4 separate regions of the Homo sapiens genome follow, and all the other regions are linked to region 1. Evidence: fine-mapped expression QTL. A gene starts in region 1. Each other region holds a variant in brackets. All regions are shown on one strand. Distances are between the middles of the regions. Region 1 holds the start of HACD3 (3-hydroxyacyl-CoA dehydratase 3). Region 2 overlaps DENND4A (DENN domain containing 4A). Region 3 overlaps INTS14 (integrator complex subunit 14). Region 4 overlaps LOC105370866 (a long non-coding RNA gene).

What was found. PIP is the estimated chance that this variant, and not a neighbour inherited with it, causes the effect.
Region 2: its variant is the best candidate, but not a certain one, in a credible set for the expression of HACD3 in lymphoblastoid cells (GEUVADIS, PIP 0.65).
Region 3: its variant is the best candidate, but not a certain one, in a credible set for the expression of HACD3 in lung (TOPMed, PIP 0.76).
Region 4: its variant is the best candidate, but not a certain one, in a credible set for the expression of HACD3 in lymphoblastoid cells (GTEx, PIP 0.62).

Annotation. Positions count from the first base shown.
Region 1 is chr15:65,527,383-65,532,534 of GRCh38, forward strand. It overlaps HACD3 (3-hydroxyacyl-CoA dehydratase 3), which reads left to right and starts at 3,081. Exons shown (of 11, transcript NM_016395.4): 1 at 3,081-3,336. The coding sequence starts at 3,250. RefSeq lists an enhancer at 1,405-1,905 and a silencer at 2,944-3,163.
Region 2 is chr15:65,759,235-65,764,386 of GRCh38, forward strand. It overlaps DENND4A (DENN domain containing 4A), which reads right to left. Exons shown (of 33, transcript NM_001320835.1): 2 at 2,126-2,204. Among named protein-coding and RNA genes, the nearest start is that of DENND4A, 30 kb to the right of the region's middle. The variant T/C (reference allele first, on the strand shown) is at 2,777.
Region 3 is chr15:65,578,263-65,583,414 of GRCh38, forward strand. It overlaps INTS14 (integrator complex subunit 14), which reads right to left. Exons shown (of 12, transcript NM_001394796.1): 11 at 3,692-3,757; 12 at 495-1,397. The coding sequence ends at 1,146. It overlaps HACD3 (3-hydroxyacyl-CoA dehydratase 3), which reads left to right. Exons shown (of 11, transcript NM_016395.4): 11 at 1-87. Among named protein-coding and RNA genes, the nearest start is that of INTS14, 30 kb to the right of the region's middle. RefSeq lists an enhancer at 612-1,190 and a silencer at 749-1,043. The variant GT/G (reference allele first, on the strand shown) is at 2,242.
Region 4 is chr15:65,802,848-65,807,999 of GRCh38, forward strand. The region is part of intron 1 of LOC105370866 (a long non-coding RNA gene); the gene reads left to right. Among named protein-coding and RNA genes, the nearest start is that of DENND4A, 13 kb to the left of the region's middle. The variant C/A (reference allele first, on the strand shown) is at 2,526.

The sequences.
Region 1 (5,152 bases):
GCTTTATTTGTAATAGCTAAAAACTAGAAACAACACAAATATCCATCGATAGGAGAATGGATAAATAATTTGTGGTATACTCATATAGTCAACTACTACAGAGCAAAACCAAAAACTAAAAGAATGAATTACTGATTCACTCAGCAACATGGATAAATCTCATACACATTATGTTGATGAAAGAAACCAAGGCCCGGTGCGGTGGCTCACATCTGTAATCCCAGCACTTTGGGAGGCTGAAGCGGGTGGATCATGAGGTCAGGAGTTCAAGACTAGCCTGGCCAAGATGGTGAAACCCCGTATCTACTAAAATACAAAAATTAGGGGCCAGGCACGGTGGCTCATGCCTGTAATCCCAGCACTTTGGGAGGCTGAGGCAGGCAGATCACGAGGTCAGGAGTTAGAGACCATCCTGACCAACATGGTGAAACCCCGTCTCTACTAAAAATACAAAAATTAGCTGGGCGTGATGGCGGACAGCTGTAATCCCAGCTACTTGGGAGGCTGAGGCAGGAGAATCGCTTGAATTGGGAGGCCGAGGTTGCAGTGAGCCGAGACTGCACCACTGCACTCCATCCTGGGTGACAGAGCAAGACTCTGTCTCAAAAAAAAAAAAAAGAAAAAAGAAAAAGAAACCAGACACTGTAGGTTCCATTTATATAAAATTCAAGAACAGAACAGACAAAAAAGACTCTATGGTGATATATCAGGATAGTAATTACTGAGAGGCAAAGATATTTTAACATGAAATAACCTCTGGGATACTGGAAATATTCCAGATCTTGATCTAGGTGATAATTACATGGATATATACATATAGAAAAATTCAGCTTAAACTGAATATTTAAGATTTACCCATGTTCTATATGTAAACTACATCTCAATGTTTTTAAAAAGTGCCCCATATTGCATCTGCATTGTAGTAAACACAATACAATAAAATACCTTTATCATAAAAAATATTTTATCGTTAAAATTCAAGACTGTCAACGTCACTGCTTTCATCAACTCATTCTTGGCAGATTGCATTGGTCTCCCATTGCTTTGCCTACTACCAATTCCTCCTCCTCTCTGACAGGTCTTTCTTGCTGAGCACATTTGATTTTACTAATCTCCAGGTTAACAAACTTCCTTGGCTCCCATGTGTCTGTGGGATACAGTATAGGCACCTCAGTGAAGCAAACAAAGACTTTCCTAATGCACCCTCTGCCTTTCCAGATTCAGGGCGACCTCTCTCCTCTATGCCTTTAATCCCTAGCAGCAGAACCTCCTTCCACAACCCTCTCTCTTTTTTAAATTTTAAGACAGGGCCTCACACTGTCACCCAAGCTGGAGTGCAGTGGCGCGATCTCGCCTCCTGGGCTTAAGCAATTCTCCCACCCTAGCCTCCCGAGTAGCTCGGACCCCAGGGGCGCGCCAACCACGCCCTGCTAACTGTTGTATTTTTTGTAGAGACAGTGTATTGCCATTTTTCCCAGGCTGGTCTCAAACTCCTGGGCTCCAGCGATCCTCCCGCCTCGTCCTCCCAAAGTGCTGGGATTACACGCGTGAGACGCTGCACCTGGTCCACATCTTTTCACCTGTGAACGAAGCAAGCGCCCTGTGCTTCCACGGCCTACCTGGTTCTTACTCAGTCAAATTCCTACTCGCATTTCACCATCCCGTTCTCAAGGGTTGGCTCTCAAATGTCTGACAATGGTTCCCACGGCCCTCAGTTCCTATCATCATAAACTCTTTGTGAGCTCAGCACATTCATTATATGAAAACTCTCTATATTTTATTCTGTCCACTCTTGAGCTAAATGTTTCCAGAGAGCTAGCAGAATTTGTTTTCAGCGTTAGATCCCTCTGCTAAACAAACGGGTGCTAATAGAATCACTTTGCTAAATAAATGGGAGCTAACAGGATTGAATATGAGTTCCATTTTTGTCCCAGAGTTCTAGTTTTCATATAAATATTTCTTCCCATTAAATTCTTCTCTGCAGAAGAACTTGGGGATGAAACCCGATACAGACAAGACAGCTTAAGTAAGACATAAATGAGTGTTGTCTCTAGTTTGAGTTTCCTATTTTTTTGAGACAGTCTCCTGCACTGTCCAATAGAATAGCCACCAAAAATATGGATATTTAAGTTTAAATTAGAAGTGAATAAAGTTGGCCGGGCGCGGTGTCTCACGCCTATAATCTCAGCACTTTGGGAGGCCAAGGCGGGCGGATCACCTGAGGTCGGGAGTTCGAGACCAGCCTGACCAACATGGAGAAACCTCGTCTCTACTAAAAATACAAAATTAGCCGGTGGCGCATGCCTGTAATCCCAGCTACTCGGGAGGCTGAGGCAGGAGAATCACTTGAACCCGGGAGACAGAGGTTGCGGTGAGCCGAGATCGCGCCATTGCACTCCAGCCTGGGCAACAAGAGAGAAACTCCGTCTCAAAACAAAACAACAACAACAACAAAAAAAAAACAGAAGTGAGTAAAATTGAAAATTCGGTTATTCAGTTCAAGTACTCAAAAGCCTCATGTGGCTAGTGGCTACCGTATTAAAGAGCGCAATGTGCAATATTTCCATCATCACCTACAGTTTTATTGGGCAGCGCTGCCCTGGTCTTTATTTTCCCTTGTTGGAACGCTCTTCCACGCTGCTCCCACACCATGTCCCCTATCACCATTATTATCCTCATTTCATCTGTAATTACTTGCATCTTTTAATAGGCTGGGAGTTCTAAGACAGAAGGGACTGTGTCTCACTTCTGTTGTTCCAGTGTTTAGCTTTGAAACCCAGGCACACAGTAGGTACTCAGTAAACAGAATGCGAAGGACCGTCCAGAGACACCAGTCCCAAACCCTTTTCCAGGCTGATCGGTCCCCCATAAGTCTCCAGCCTTTTTTATTTTAAAGCTTATTTTAAAGCATGTCCCTGAAGACGAGTGGGGAGAGCAGACCACCCGCTGATTCCAATTCCCTAGGCGGCCGCGGCGAGCTGCGGCGTCTCTGTGCCCCGGCCTGCCCCTATCCCGCCTGCGCCCCGCCCCCGCCCGGCTCGCGCCAAGGCCCGCTGCTGGCGCCGCCGCCATCCCGGCGCGTCACTGCGCAGGCGCGGCCCGCGAGCGTGGGGTATCTCGAGGTGCCGGGTTGCAGGCGCTCAGGAGCGCTAGGGTTTGAGGCCTGCTTTCTGCTCGCGCCAGCAGAGCACTACCTGAGGCAGCGAGGCGCAGCGAGCCTAGCCTCCCCGCGCCCTGGGCAGTGTGGCCATGGAGAATCAGGTGTTGACGCCGCATGTCTACTGGGCTCAGCGACACCGCGAGCTATATCTGCGCGTGGAGCTGAGTGACGTACAGGTAAAGGCCGGGTCGGGCGGCGGGAAGCGCGCGGGATCGCGGCTCCGGGTACCCGCCAGGACCCCTGCCCCCTTTGTCCGCGTGCGCGCCGGAGAGCCTGCAGTGCGCCAACAAGGTCGGCGACGCGGTGCGCTTACGGCGTGCTGGCGCTTTTCGAGGCTCATCTGCAGATCTCGGGCCGGGGGCACAACCCCCCGAGGGCTGCAGGAACCTTCGGGTCCCCAGAGAGCTCGGCCTGGGCCTCTCAGGCTACCCCGGGCCTCTTCTTTGTTCGCAGTCGGCGGCCTTCATGGAGCCCAGGCCCGGCCCTGGCTGCCTGGCCGTCGGGGTTCGAGTTGGCTGGGGCCCTTCGAGATGTGGGATGAGCTTGTTGGGTCAGGGGTGCGGTTGTGACAGCGGCTTGCTGGGCCGTAGCTGAATGCCTGCCGCTGGCCTGAGAGGTCCAGCCAGGCCCCTCGGACGTTACTGAGGCTGGGCGCTGCCGGAGGTGGGGGAGGGGGAGGGGTGGGGGGCCACACCCACCTCGCAACCGTTCAGTGATGGAAATCATTCTCATTACTTTTAATTTTAAAATTCACAAGAGCTGGAGGAAGTGATTTCCCCCTCTGTTCTGAAGGTTGTGAGCTCAGGTTTGCTGAGTTGCACAGAGAACTTAAAAAGTTCTTAAGTTACATTAAGCATTTCTGTTTGAGCTCCTTGGCCCTTAATGTAAGCAAGCTGAAGGCACGTAGTAGTGGAGACTCCAGGACCTGTGTATCCTCATGTCTCTGTCCAAACTAAAGATTCTGGGCTTTGAGAAACTGGAATTTTCATTCTGGAAGGTTCTTTCTTTCTTTCTTTCTTTTTTTTTCTTTTCTTTTTTTTGAGACGGTGTTTCGCTCTTGTCGCCCAGGCTGGAGTGCAATGGCGCGATCTCGGCTCACCGCAACCTCTGCCTCCCGGGTTCAAGGGATTCTCCTGCCTCAGCCTCCCGAGTAGCTGGGATTATAGACGCGTGCCACCATGCCCGGCTAATTTTTGTATTTTTAGTAGCGACAGGGTTTCACCATGTTGGCCAGGCTGGTCTCGAACTTCTGACCTCAGGTGATCCACCCGTCTCGGCCTCCCAAAGTGCTGGGATTACAGGCATGAGCCACCGCGCCCAGCCTCTGGAAGGTTCTTTCTACAGTCATTCTTATTGGAAACTTCTCCTTAACATCTATGGCACTTTGTCATCTCTTTCACTCCATTTAACTCTCTCTGCCTCTGAACAGGCATCTGCTTGGATCACCCGTGGATCCGGTAAAATGTAGGTGCTTTCTGAGTGTCGACTTGAATTTATTGAATTTAATATAATCTTTGCTTCTGGAATATAAACAGTTTTCCTGTTGAAAGATGAAGACAGTAGTGGCCAGAATGCCTTTAAATAGGCTATGACATTGCATGGTGTGTCGTTTAATGTGTTCATCCAGACTGAGGCTATACTTTTGGGTCAGAGTATGAGTAAATGTTCTGTGCTGTCTCCCTCTACTGCTCCACGGTGGTTTAATAGAATAGGAAAAAACAAACAAAATCTTTTGTAGATGGGGATCAAAGTCCCCGTCTAGAGAGGGTTCTTCCAGCAGTCAATAAAAAAGTACGGAACAGGCCAGGTGCTGTGGCTCACGCCTGTAATGCCAACACTTTGGGAGGCCGAGGCGGGAGGATCACCTGAGGTCAGGAGTTCGACACCAGCCTGACCAACATGGAGAAACCCCATCTCTACTAAAAATACAAAATTAGCCGGGCATGGTGGTGCATGCGTGTAATTCACTATGTTGGCTACTCGGGAGGCTGA
Region 2 (5,152 bases), 230 kb after region 1:
TTGGGAGGCCGAGGCGGGTGGATCACAAGGTCAGGAGTTCAAGACCAGCCTGGCCAATATGGTGAAACCCCATTTCTACTAAAAATAACAAAAATTAGTCAGGTGTGGTGGCATGTGCCTGTAGTCCCAGCTACTCGGGAGGCTGAGGCAGGAGAATTGCTTGAACCCAGGAGGCGGAGGTTGCAGTGAGACAAGATCGCGCCACTGCACTCCAGCCTGGGCGACCGAGCGAGACTCCATCTGGAAAAAAAAAGGAAAAAAAATGGGACTAAAGAAGATTAAATGTTTCTACTTGTTTTATTTACATACTAATGGCGCCTATGCAGCAATTTCCTTACATATAGGATTTCTACATATAATAAAGGGCTTAACCTTTTCAGAAATGCCTCCTAGATGGACACTTAAAAAGAAAGTGCTAACAATCTGTTCTGAGAAGACTGTTAAATGCTGACTTATCACCCTCAGCTCGTTGCATATAACAAGTGCTCCAAAAAAAGAGCAGTTTTACCCAATTGACCATCTATTTATTTAAGAAAGTTGCAGAATAACAAAAGGACTTTTGTGTTTAACTTTTTTTCTCCAGTTCATTAGTCTTTGAAAACAATTTTTAAAGGGCTGCATAGTATTTTATTTTATGGATATACCATTTTTGACCTATGTGCTTACTGTAGATCATTTATTACTTCTACTTATTTTGCTAATTTTTTTTAAAGGGTACAATGAATAATCTTGATAAACCTCTGGACACAACTCTAGTATTTCTTCAGGATACATTTGTTGAAATAGAATTATTAGGTCAAAGGTTATATCAGCCTTTATTTATGTGCTTTCGTGTGTACATGAATTTTATATTATAAGCTCTAAATACACATAACCTTAAAAATTACTCTGGTAAAGTATTTTCATTCCATCATAATGAAGAAACTAAAACATCCTCCTTTTTCCTAGATGCTAACTTTATGTTATTTAAACTAAAGCATGGCCAGGCGTGGTGGCTCATGCCTGTAATCCCAGCACTTTGGAAGGCCAAGGCGGGCAGATCACTTGAGGTTAGGAGTTCGAGACCAGGCTGGCTAACACGGTGAAACCCCGTCTCTACTTAAAATACAAAAAATTAGCGGGGCATGGTGGCGCACGCCTGTAATCCCAGCTACTCAGGAGGCTGAGGCAGGGGAATTGCTTGAACCTGGGAGGCGGAGGTTGCAGTGAGCTGAGATCATGCCACTGCACTCCAGCCTGGGCAAGAGTGAGACTCTGTCACAAAATAATAAATAAATAAATAAATAAACAAACTAAAGCAGGCAAACTAAAGCAGATAGTCACTATTGCATAAAATAGTTTTATGTCTTGCTACGTAGAAAGAAGGGTAAGAGGCCGGGCAGAGTGGCTCATGCCTATAATCCCAGCACTTTTGGAGGCCGAGATGGGCAGATCACTTGAGGTCAGGAGTTCAAGACCAGCCTGGCCAACATGGTGAAACCTCGTTTCTACCAAAAATACAAAAATTAGCCAGGCATGATGGTGCATGCCTATGATCCCAGCTACTTGAGAGGCTGAGGAACAAGAATCACCTGAACGCTGTAGGCAGAGGTTGCAATGGGCCAAGATCAACGCCACTGCACTCCAGCCTGGGCAACAGAGGGAGGCTCTGTCTCAAAAAAAAAGCGGAAACAGAAGAGATATAGTACTATCATGAAAACATATATTTAATAAGTTTTTTTGAGAACTACCACCTTATCCTTGGAAATAACTAGCTATTATAAGTAAATATTTGAGATAAATTTATTCATAAAATTCCTTTTCATTAGTTCTTTTGGGTATTTTTCACAAAATTTAATAATTTGAACTCATTCACAATAGAACGCAGGAAATAACTACTAAAAGGGAACCGTATACTTCACATTGAAGATTTTGTCTCTAATAAATGGTGTTGAATTAATTGTGATCCAAGGCACATCCTGAGACATCTTTCAATGAATTATTTTGTATCATTTGTTACCCATAATTATTACATGGAGAATATATTCCAAATTATTAAGACTTCTGGAAAACTAAGGTTTCACTGTGTTTAACACAGGAAATAGCTAACTGAAACAAATCAAAATGAAAGCCAAAAACTACTTACACATTACCGAAAGTTTCTCTCTGAAAAAGATGACAGATTTCAATGTGTGAACTCCGCAGCCTCAGAGTTTGAGAAATAACTGTATTGAAAACAGTAAGAATTGGACTTAAATTCATTCCAATCAAATATTTCCCCCAATATGCCTGTGGATACTTAAAGTTCTGTTAACAGTGATAATTACTAAACTGATTGCATTTATTGTTTTCTTGTGGTTAAGAGCCAATAAGCAATTTTTAAAAACAAGATTTCAGTAAAGAATAAATACATACTTTAAAAACAAAACATGCTGAAGAGAGGCAATGAGAAAAAAAAAGAAAAAACTAGCAGATAAGGGGGAAAAAAAGAAAGCAAGAAGAATAAATAAGGGTACAAAAGAGGAAATGTGTACAGGGCAAAGAGTGTGAGAAAGAACAACATGACTATTTCTGGGGCACTGTACAGAGCCTCATTCACAGGGGAAAAATGTATACATTTAACATAATTCAAATATAGACTCAAGTAACTTCCATATAAAAAAAAGTTTCAAAGAAGTCAATACCCAAAAGTACTTTCCCTTTATTACAAATTTCAAAGATACTACAGTCAGCCTTCTGTATCCATGAGTTCCACATCCATACCATGGATTGAAAAGATGTTTTTTGTTGTTGTTAT[T/C]GTTGTTGTTTTTGAGACAAGAGTTTCGCTCTTGTTGCCCAGGCTGGAGTGCAGTGGCTCGATCTCGGCTCACCGCAACCTCCACCTCCTGGGTTCAAGAGATTCTCCTGCCTCAGCCTCCCGAGTAGCCGGGATTACAGGCATGTGCCACCATGCCCAGCTAATTTTGTATTTTCAGTAGAGACCAGGTTTCTCCATATTGGTCAGCCTGGTCTCGAACTCCCAACCTCAGGTGAGCTGCCTGCCTCGGCCTCCCAAAGTGCTGGGATTACAGGCGTGAGCCACCGCACATGGCCTGAAAAGATGTTTTTCAAAAACAATAAAAATAACAGACTGGGCTCAGTGGCTCACGTCTGTAATCCCAGCACTTTGAGAGGCCAAGGCAGGAGGATTGCTTAAGCCCAAGAGTTCAAAGCCAGCCTGGGCAATATAGTGAGGCCCCCATCTCTAAAAAAAAAAGAAGAAAGTTAGTGCCAGGCAGGGTGGCACGTGCCTGTAGTCTCAGCTACTCAGGAGACTGAGGCACGAGAATCACTTGAGCCCAGGAAGCTGAGGCTGCAGTGAGCCCTGATCACACCACTGTGCTCCAGCCTGGGTAACAGAGTAAAGCTCTATCTCCAATGAATGAATGAATGAATGATACAACAAAAAATGTAATACAAATTTAACAAAATAATTCGGTATAACTTTATATAGCATTTAATTGAATTAGGTATTATAGATAATCTAGAGGTGATTTAAAGTATACAGGAGGATGTGTGTAGATTATGTGCAAATACCACACCATTTTACGTAAGGGGCTTAAGTATATGTGGATTTTGGTATCCATCGGGTGGAGGTTGGGGGTATCCTGGAACTAATCCATGGAGGATACCAAGGGGCAAATGTACTTACATAGAATCATTTATATCAAATCTCACCAAGGAACCAAATTCTTCTGAACAAGAGAATAAGCAATGTCATATTACAGAATTCAATATGCCAGTATCTTATTTTTTTAAATTAAGTAATTTAGTAACTTGTAATTATGAGTCATTTTAAACACTAGATGGAAAGATGATGCCACCGACAAAGTCTTAAGAGTAGAGCCAGACCAACTGTATTGTACCAAGCACTATAGGTTAGCTTTAACACTGGACACATGCACACACAAAATGAAGTTCAGTAAGAGTCAATAGCTTCTGCGGGGAAACAAGCACAGAAATCATAAGCACCTCAAGAGGAAGAAACCACAGCTTTAACCAACATGGAATATCTACTAACAACCAGGAAACAGGAGCAGCTACACCCAGACACAAGATTCATCTAACTTGGTTAGGTCCTTGACATGTGTGTGTCTGTGAGAAGTGGAAGAGAAGGGGGTAAGGGCATAAACTGAGTCAAGAATTTAATAAACACCAGGTACAGTGGCTCATGTCTATAATCCCAGCACTTTGGGAGGTTGAGGCGTGTGGATCACTTGAGCTCAGGAGTTTGAGACATGGCAAAATCCTGTCTCTACAAAAAATACCAAAGTAGCCAGGTGTTGGTGGTGCAGTCCTGTAGTCCTAGCTCCTTGGTGGGGCTGAGATGGGAGGATTGCTTGAGCCCAGGAGGTCGAGGCTGCAGTGAGCCTTGTTCACACCACTGCACTCCAGCCAGCCTGAGTGACCAAGCAAGACCTTGTCTCAAAAAAAAAAAAAAAAAAAAAAAATTCGATAGTGTCTTGAAATAGAGGGTGAAAAGAATGAAAGCAAAATAATATATTCATAATCTTATTACCTTTTGAACTGCTAAATATTGTCAGGATAGATATATGTATTTTTAAAATGAGGATGCCAAAAGTTCCCTGAAAAAATTTCAGGGAGTAAATATGCAGTGGTAAATGTACTTTTCAAATATCTCTAAAATGTTATTGCTGACAATTGGCAATGAAACAATGTAAATACTGACTTGCTGAAACATTTTTTAAAATTCAACATCAGTTGTCACAAAAATTTCTAGTAAAAATACTGTATGTATATAGAAATACTTGTAAATTTTGAAAATTATTTATTTTATTGGTAGAATATCAGACTTATTTAGATGTAATTATGAATTATGGATGTGCTACAACCAATTTCAAATACATTTTCTGCTACATTGTTTCTTAATATAGTAAGAACACTGTTTTGACCATAACTCTGCCCCATTAAACTTAATATTTGTATCATTATTCTAAAAACAGGCCAGGTGTGATGGGTCATATCTATAATCCTAACACTTTGGGAGGTCAAGGCAGAAAAATCACTTGAGGCCAGGAGTTCAAGACCAGCCTGGGCAACACAGCAAGACCTCATCTGGACAAAAAAATAAAATTGGCTGGGCATGGTAGCTCACGCCTATAACCCCAGCACT
Region 3 (5,152 bases), 51 kb after region 1:
TATTCTTAGTGATTGTTACAAACCCCTTTATTGCTGTCTGAGAAAGTGAAAGATTGTGTATTTCTATTAAAACATTTACAATCAAAATTCTAATGACTGTGCTTAAAGATAATTTAGTCTAATGGTTCTCTGTTAGTGATAAAGACCTTTGTTCAGGCAAAATATTATGTAGCAGTTCAGCATGTTAAACCAAAAACAGTTGCTCTGGTTGAAGCCTGAGAGTTACATGGAAGGTGGTGCAAATGAAAAACACTGATGATGCAGACAAAGCCTTGAGAAGTTGCCCAAAGTCATAAAGCTAGCTGATAAATTGGAACCATAATTAACTTTGGAATCGGATCGGTGATCTGTCAGGATTACCTAGCCAGAACCTTGCTTAGGCAATGAGGCCTAATCAGTGTCAGAAATAAGGAAACCTCATGATTTATGAATCTATGCCACTTAGAAAGTTGAAATTATATTAAAGTGATAAGACAGACCAAAAGCAAACGACCTTTAGTTTCATAGTGAAACCATTTTCTAGAAAATCAAATATTTTATTTTCATTAAAAAAAAACCTTGAATAATAGGAATCATTTTACACATTAATGGTTGCTCTTTAAAAGTTAGAATCTCAAGAGATACCAAAAGCACTTAAGAGTTACCACCACATTTTGCCCAAGTTCTAAGGAAAGTTCTGAAACTTAGTGGTGGTGTGTTTGTACTCAGCAAGCTCCAGACAGTCTGAGTTGCTCATTCCATGAACAGAAGCTTGAAAATGCCCTTACAGTTGAGATATAAACGAGGGAAGAGGTGAAGCTTTCAGGAAGCCAGAGAGCCCCTGCCGGTCAGGTTTCCTGAGGAAGGCAGGGGTGCTCTATGCTCATCAGTCATTCAAGCTTCTCAGGAAATGTGCCCATCATGGGAACAGCAGCTATCTTCCAAGCTTAAAAATTATGAATCCCAGGAAGTTAAAGCCCAACCAGCCAACCACCTTCACATCCTTCTCATACTAGTAGAGTCATTCAAAACAGCAAGTGGTGCTTCTGAGGCAGCCTCAGGAAGGTCTTTGGGTGGCTATTCTAGAGGTGAACATACTGGAAAGGTTTTTACCTAAAGCATTTTCAGTTGAAATGAAAAAAGAAGGAAAGCTCCAAAAGTCAGTTTCAAATTCTTTCAGTGCTGCTCCCAGAGAAGTCCGTGTGCAAAGGTGTGATGTTCTGGTCATAAGCGGCATACTCAGAGGTGCCGGTACTGGCCAGCTTGAGCTGCTGGGCAGCATGGGTCAGCTGGAATGCAGCATCAGGGTGGGCTGTCTCAGGCAGCAGTGTGCATTCCCTTTCCAGCATGTCAGCCACCCCTTTCAGCAGGTCCAGGAAACCAAAGGCTAGAGCGGCCTTTCGCAAACGGTTCAGCTCCTGAAACAAGACAGAAAATCACCAATGCTCCTGAAATGTGTTCCTAACACATACTTTCTAAGTGCTCAGCTTAGCATAAGTTCTCCTTGACTGAACTTTAGGGAGCAATTTTATATGAGAACAAATGTTTATTTAGGGATGCCAGTAACAAGAATGTGATGGTTTTACTGGGAAGTGGTTCCTCTGCAGGTGACCAGAAGCAGGCTAAGGAAGACAGCTGAATGAAACAACGTCATCATCACAGTTAATGAGCATTTATGCCACATGTGGTAGTCAGCACTTTGCATCCATCATTTCGTTACTCCTAACTTTAAGGAGGAGTACTTTTCCCCTGTTATTTAGGTATGGAAAAGACTTGCCCTCAATCTGAAAACGCTCTTAACCCTCTGATGCCACTGTGGTGGGGCCTCAGGCTAAGACAATAAACAGGCTCAAGAGGAGGCCCTGGAGGAGTCAGAGTGGAAAGACCAACAAAAAGAAAGGCTGGTTACTGATAGAAGCAGAGAAATATGAAGTGCCCCAACAACCCCTTAGTGGAGTGGTCTGGGCAAGTTATATAGCCTCTCTGGGTCTCAAAGGCCTCATTTATAAAATGAGGAGAATAACCCCTTCCTTACCCACTGCAGAGGCTGAAGCACTTTCCCTAGGCCCTTTTGAGCTCTAATATGTAGCATTATATAAAACCAGAAAAGAGAAATGGGCTCTCTGACCATCTTTCTACTATCATCTGTTAAAAAAGTGGAAAGTTAAGAAGAAGGCCAAACAAGTGTGTCATCATGAGTAAATAGCTGATGACTGTAGGAAGCTCTGCAGGGAGGATGGACTGTGTGGATTATGGGCTTCA[GT/G]TTAGGGAGGGGCCTGGCTGGCTAAGAAGCTCTCCAGTTGAACTCTTGATTAAAGCTGTTTTATTTCACCAGCTTACTACATAATTAAGTTTGAAGACAACAGTGACATAAAGGTAATGAGATAACACCCAGACAAAGTAGCATGTATCTTCTCTGGTTAAGATGCTAGCCTAAGGCTGGCTGTGTGTGCCACATTTTAGAATTAGAAAGCTAAGACACAAATGACATACTTTATGCTGCACTTAATTTAATTCCAGCCAAACACCAGAACAATAGGGGAGAATCAAGGAGCAAACCTAAATGTTCCCCACTCTACCCCACCCCCTGTAACTTAACAGTCTCTTCACCAATCGTTCTGGATTAGCTGCATATGATTCTGCAGGGCTATCTCCTCTGCAATTCATAAATGTGTAATGTTAGATATCATTCCTAGAAGCAGAGTCTCTGGTGCAATAAAAATGTTCTGGGGTGGCCAGGTGGGGTGGCTCACGCTTGTAATCCCAGCACTTTGGGTGGATCACCTGAGGTCAGGAGTTCGGGACCAGCCTGGCCAACACAGCGAAACCCCATCTCTACTGAAAATACAAAAATTAGGCCGGGAACGGTGGCTCACGCCTGTAATCCCAGCACTTTGGGAGGCCGAGGCGAGCGGATTACCTGTGGTCAGGAGTTCAAGACCAGCCTGGCCAACATGGTGAAACCCCGTCTCTACTAAAAATACAAAAATTAGCCGGGCATGGTGGCACACACCTGTAATCCCAGCTACTTGGGAGGCTGAGGCAGGAGAATTGTTTGAGCCCGCGAGGCGGAGGTTGCAGTGAGCTGAGATCGTGCTACTGCACTCCAGCCTGGCCGACAGAGTGAGACTCTGTCTCAAAAACAAAAAAACAAAAATTAGCTGGGCGTGGTGGCACGTGCCTGTAGTACTAGCTACTCAGGAGGCTGAGGCAGGAGAATCACTTGAACCTGTGAGGCAGAGGTTGCAGTGACCCAAGATTGCACCACGACACTCCAGCCTGGGCAACAGAGTGTGACTCCATCTCAAAAAAAAAAAAAAAAAAAAAAAAAAAAAAGAATGTTCTGGGCAATTCCCCATCCAGGAAGCCACATACATTGGTTGCCTGGGGTTGGCCTGGATACCCATATAGGAGTGATGAGGAGAGTTCAGGGCTATGACCCACAGGTCCTCTAAGCTGCTTCCATCAGTCATTCATTCACAGCAGCCCCAACACAGAAAAACCTTCTGCCTGTACAGAATTAGGCCATTTAAATTCTTCCAATTCTTGGATTTTAGGGAAGGAACAGACCTATCACTTTTACTGAGTTTATTTGAAAAAACTGAGGCACAAGTCATACATCTCTAACCCCTGCCCATATTCACACTGCCATCTCACAGTTTTACTGTCGTGAACCATATATTTTGGGCACATCCTCTTCTGTCTGTCTCACCTTATAGAATGTCTGTGTTTTTTCAGGTAGTTTCCTTGCATTTCTTAAAATCTTCTGTACATCTGTCTATTAAGGGTAAAAAAAAAAATCCAACATTAGAATTCTGTGGTAAAAAAGGGAAATAATATAAAAGAATGGATCTAAATGTTTAAAGAGATGAAAATGAGAACACAGCTACAATGTCAAGATGAGGATCCCTTCTGAGTTAATGTCAGTTCAACATTAGTAAAGCACTCCCTCCTTCAAAAGGCTTGACAGTAAAATAAATCCCCTGACAGAAACGAACTTGCCTCATAAAAATGTACCCAGTAAACCCATACATCTATTGCCAGGGACTTTTTTGCAAAGACGATTCAATGGGGAAAAAATAGTCTCTTCAACATTTGGTGCTGAGACAACTGGATATCCACAAGCAAAAGAATAAAGTTGGACCCTTACATCATACCATATACAAAAAACTAACTCAAAATGGATCAGAGACCTACATGTAAAAGCTAAAACTATAAAACTCTTAGAAAAAAACGGGCCAGGTGCAGTGGTGTGCCCCTGTAATCCTAGCTACTCAGGAGGATTGCTTGAGGCCAGAAGTTTGAGACCAGCCTGGGCAACGTAGTGAGATGTGTTTCTCAAGAGAAAAAGAGAAGAAGAAAAAGAAAACACAGCGGGTAAATCTTTATGACTTTGGATTTGGCAATGATCTCTTAGTTAAGACAGCACAAAGCACAAACAACAAAAGCAAGAGACAAAATTTGACTTCTTCAAAACCAAAAACTTTGTGTATCAAAGGACACTATAAAGAGAGTGAAAAGATAACTCACAAAATGGGAGAAGATATTTGCAAATCATGTATCTGCTAAGGATCATAATATCCAGAATATATAAAAAACCCAACAACAAAAAGACAAACCCAATTAAAAAATGGACAAAGAACTTGAGTATATACTTCTCCAAATAATATACACAAATGGCCAATAAGCACAGGAAAAGATGCACATTATTGGTCATCAAGGAAATGCAAAAACAAAGACATACCACTTCACACCTACTATGATAGCTATATGATAATAATAATAAAAGGAAAACAATGAGTATTGGTAGGAACGTGGAGAAACTAGAACACTTATACACTGCTAGCAGAAATGTAAAATGGTGTGGCTGCTGTGAGAGAGTGTGGCAATTCCTCAGTAAGTTAAAGAGAATTGCTGTCTGACCCAGCAATCCCATTCCCATTAAAATATATACCCAAGAGTATTGAAAACAAATGTTCAGACCAAAACTTATACATGAATGTTTGTAACAGCATTATCCACAATAGCCAAAAGGTAACCCTAATGTCCGTCAACTGAGGGATAATCAAAATGTGACATATACATATAGACATATGGAATATTAGCCATAAAAAGGAATGAAGTACTGATACATACTACAACATGAATAAACCTTGAAAACATCATGCTAAGT
Region 4 (5,152 bases), 280 kb after region 1:
TTTTTTTGTTTTGCTTTGTTTTTTGTTTTATTCACAACTGAGAAATTGTTAAGATATTAACAAATCCTAGTCCAGATTCAGGGATACTGGGGAGAAAACCCTGACTATTTTTTGTTTGTTTGCTTTTTAACTAACTACCTTCCTTCCACTCCAAAAACAAACCCAACTATATATTAATCATTCCCCGCTTTTGAGTATTTTATAATCAAGCCTATAATTGTTTGAAGGACAAATCAGCTCTTTTATTACACTACGTGTCACTCATTTTGTGAACAGTTGTCCCAGTTCTTAAGTACATAGTTTATAACAACCTATGTGTTTGTATAGGATGATTGTTAATTATCATCATCAAAAACATTCACATGTCTATATATATCCACACAAGTAGGCATTTACAAAGGAAATTCCAAAGACATATTCCCTTTCCTCAATCAGCCAATAATAACATTGACCCAAGACAATTAGTTTATGTGATAGATTTCTTGTTTCTCATTTTTATTCCTAAACCCCATCTCAAACCATGAAACCTCAAAAGGAATTGTGTAGGATCATATACCTTATTGGTACTCGATAAATGATGATCAACTGTTGTTATTCCATTCGTCTTCATAATTTTCTCATATTATAAAAAAGACAGTCATTTATTTATATGAGTACTTGCCTTTAATCCTGTTTTATCCTAAGCTGTAGAGTCTCTGCAGGAACCAACCACCTTAATCTTTATTAAAAACAGGGCTCATTCAGGGTAGAAGCTCAGAGAACTTATAATTTTTTTGTTTTACAGGCTCAGTGGCTCACACCTGTAATCTTTTTTTTTTTTAGATGAAGTTTCCCTCTTGTTGTCCAGGCTAGAATGCAGTGGCACGATATCGGCTCACTGCAACCTCCACCTCCCAGGTTCAAGTGATTCTCCTGCCTCAGCCTCCCAAGTAGCTGGGATTATAGGCCCGTGCCACCATGCCCAACTAATACTTTTATATTTTTAGTAGAGACGGGGGTTTCACCATGTTGGCCAGGCTGGTCTCGAACTCCTGACCTCAGGCGATCCACCCACCTCGGCCTCCCAAGTTGCTGAGAACCACCATGCCTAGCCACACCTGCAATCTCAACACTTTGGGAGGCTGAGGCAGGTGGATCACTTGAGCCTAGGAGTTCGAGACCAACCTGAGCAACATGGCAAAACTCTGTCTCTACAAAAAAATTTTTAAAAAAATTATCCAGGTGTGGTGGTCCACGCCTGTGATCTCAGCTACTTGGGAGGCTGAGGTGGGAGGATCACCTGAGCCCCAGGAGGTGGAGGCTACAGTGAGCCATGATTGTGCCACTGTACTCTAGCCTGGGCAAGAGAGTGAGACTTGTCTCAAAACAACAACAACAACCAAAAAAACTGGTTATTTACTAAAAGACCTTCATGTGAAAGTTACATAGAATACTTTTTCTCCTGGGCCAGGTGTGGTGACTCACACCTGTAATCCCAGAACTTTGAGAGGCTCAGGTGAGAGGACTGCTTGAGTTAAGGAGTTCAAGACCAGCCTGGGCAACATAGTGAAACCCCCATCTCTACTAAAAATGAAAAAGTTAGCTGGGCATAATAGTGTATGCCTATAGTCCCAGCTACACATGAGGCTGAAGATGGGAGTATTGCTTGAACCCAGGAGGTTGAGGCTGCAATGAGCTATGATAGCACCACTGCACTCCAGCCTGGGCAACAGAATGAGACCCTGTCTCAAAAATAAATAAATATATAAAGAATCCTTTTTTCTCCTAATCTCTCTCTCTCTCTCTCTCTGTGTGCTGTCTTCTCGGTTTGCAACAGTCACAGCAGCTATGTTACAACCACAGAACAAGGTTTTGCAACAGTATGGCCTTGAAATAGAATACTGCCCAGTTGAAAACTTAAGCAATCAAAATGGAATATATGAAACAATGCCTGCTAGACTTCATGTGTTGCTTCTTATTAAGGAAAGCTATTGCCTTTTTCAGGAGAATGTTACTCTTTAAGTGGCAGTTTACCCTCTTTATATCAGAGTTCTCAATTGCTGTACTATTCAGACATAGCAGTGCAACTAAGACATAATCCTGTTGTCTAAAGTGTTACTTTAGTCACTAAAATGCAGCTTCAGAAAATGTATGTGTGCAACTACTTGGTAAAAGTCATTGGTAAAAACTTACTGTAAATGTCTACGTACCTGAACTCCATCAGCATGTGAATTTAACAGCTGCAATAGTGCTCTGAAGCCAAAGCCTGTTTGTCAAAAATGTGTTAATCTCTTTCTCTCTCATTTTTTTTTTCAAGAGGCCTCATTACTCAGGCCCCAGATGACTTGCTTGGGTTTCAAAGTGTTTTCTTTTTCCTCAGTTTTGATTCTGATATGAAATTGAAATGATAAATAGCAGCATGTGGGCCACCCTGATACACTGAAAATTCTCCTTAGGCTACACATGGTTCATGATAACTGTGTAATATGCTGCCATTAGTACTGCTTATCTGGCCATCTCAAAATATTGTGTAAACACAGCATATC[C/A]ACTCAAGGCCAGCCTAATGGGAGTAACTCTTCCACATTTTCTCCATTCCTACATGCATAAGGTTATTTTTAATGTGGAAACTTGAAGAATTTTTTTAAAGTTTTTTTTTCAGCAATTGTGGGTAGATTGCCCACCTTCTTATAAATGTCACACGCCGGTGGCCAACAGTTCAGTAATAGGGCTTTCCTAACCACACACAGTGCATCCAGCCAATCATCAGTCTCATGCTCTATCAAATAGTTTTAATCGTGTGACTGGGGGCACTATTTTAGGACAATTAGGTGAAACTGAACCCTCAGAATAAGCACGATTCTGGGGCAATATAGAATACCAGTTTCCTTTGCTCTTTTTTTTTTTTTTTCTATACAAGATTTTTGGTTTCTTGACTGGTTGGAATAACTTACTTTAGGTGATCTTGGCATTGGTTGAATTTTTCTATAAATTAAGATTTGTGTTAAGTAGTTTAATGGAAAGTCATGTACCGAATAAGCTGTTATAAGCACTCTTAAATCCTTCCTTATATAGCACTTGAAGCTGTGAGGAGTTACATAAAATTGTCTTCACTTAATCTATTTTGATTCATAGTTAATGAAAAGTGATTGTTCACTTGTTACATATAACAGGACCAAAGGATGGTGAAAATTTGACCTGAAAAGTGAAGAATCTCTTGCATTTGTGACAGTGTCTATATAATACAAAGAAAAGTGAAGATTTGATGTGTACTCAGTTCTAGTTATTTTGAGAAATGGGGAAAATTAGTCTGGACTTTGTGGTCTAAATTATTTCATTTGGATTGGTCTCTTTGGGTTTGACTCTTTACATTAAAAAAAATACTATTGCTTAAAAAAAATACTATTGCTCAAAAAAATGGCAGTGTGTCCATGTTGCTGATTCTCATCAGAAAAAGAAAGCAAATGAAAGCAACTATTGAAGTCTCCAGCAAGAATAAACAACCATGTATATTCCTCTTACATGCATTACAGAGCAAACGTAGTCATTCAACTTGCAGGAAAGAATCACACATTATGATTTTCATTTTGTTTTTCCCAGATTGAGGGAAAACTTTGTTTGGAAGTTTACCTGCATTTTAAAGCCCATTAATAAAAAGGATCTGGAGTTCAACTCTTATGAAGCTCACTATGATTCTTTAGCTAAAAGTTTCTTGGCTTAGCCTTAGACTTATGATTCAGATTATTCTCGGTCTGCTGGCTTAGTTCAGAAACCAAGCACCCTGTACAACTCTGAATTAGAAGTCACAAAAAAACCCACTACTTTTCTTAACTACATGTATTTTATAAGAAGATTACGCCTTCTAAAATTAGCTCTATGATGGCAAAACAGCTGGATGAAAAGGGAAAAATTCAGAGACTTGTTTTGCTGTTTTAGACATAAAATTCAACCGCCTCTTTGATTCTTAATCTCCATATGTTTTACAGTTTTATAAGACACACAGAACTGTGGTACATATGTATTTGAGTGTGATATGTATGGATTTTTTATTTGCTGCTACATATTAGCAATCTAAAAATAGAAATACTTTTCATTTTTAAATAATGGGGTTTCGTGCATAATCTTGTAAGAATGAGAATTGAACTTTTTTTTTTTTAGCAAGTTTGCCTTTTGCCAAAAGATACTGTCAGAGACCCTGACATTGTATTTTTACCCAGTCTGAAAATCTTTGTCTTTTTTTTTTTTTTTTTTTTTTTTGAGACAGAGTCTTACTCTGTTGTCACCCAGATTAGAGTGCACTGGCATGATCTCGGCTCACTGCAACCTCTGCCTCCCGGGTTCAATTGATTCTCCCTGCCTCAGCCTCCCGAGTAGCTGGGACTACTGGCTCGCACCACCATGCCTGGCTAATTTTTTTTTTTTTTTTTTTTTGGTATTTTTAGTAGAGACGGGATTTCACCATGTTGGCCAGCCTTGTCTTGAACTCCTGACCTCAGGTCATCCATACACCTTGGCCTCCCAAAGTACTGGGATTACAGCCTGGCCAACATGGTGAAAGAAACCCTGCCTCTACTAAAAATACAAAAAAGAAAAAATTAGCTGGGCGTGGTGGCGCACGCCTGTAGTCCCAGCTACTCGGGATGCTGAGGCAGGAGAATTGCTTGAACCTGGAAGGCAGAGGTTGCAGTGAGCCAAGATTGCACCACTGCACTCCAGCCTGGGCAACAAGAGCGAAACTCTTTCTCAAAAAAAAAAAAATTTAATTTTTTTTTTTTGCAAATGCAGAGAGTATTGAAACCACTGCCACAATCAAGACATGAACACACTCCATGAAAATTCTCTTGTGCTACCTACCCCTTTGTGATTGAACCCCCACCCCACCCCCAAGCCCAGGCAATCACTTATCTGTTCTCTGCTCCTATAGTTTTACCTTTTCCAGAATGTCATATAAATGGAATAGTACAATATGTAGTCTTTTGAATCTGGCTTCTTTCACTTAGCAGAAGTTTTTGTTTTTGTTTTTGAGACAGAGTCTTGTTCGGTCGCCCAGGCTGGAGTGCAGTGGTATGAACACTGCTCACTGCAGTCTTGACTTCCTGGGCTCAAGTGATCCTCCCACCTCAGCTTCCTGTGTAGCTGGGACCACAGGCATATGCCACTGTGCTCACCTAATATT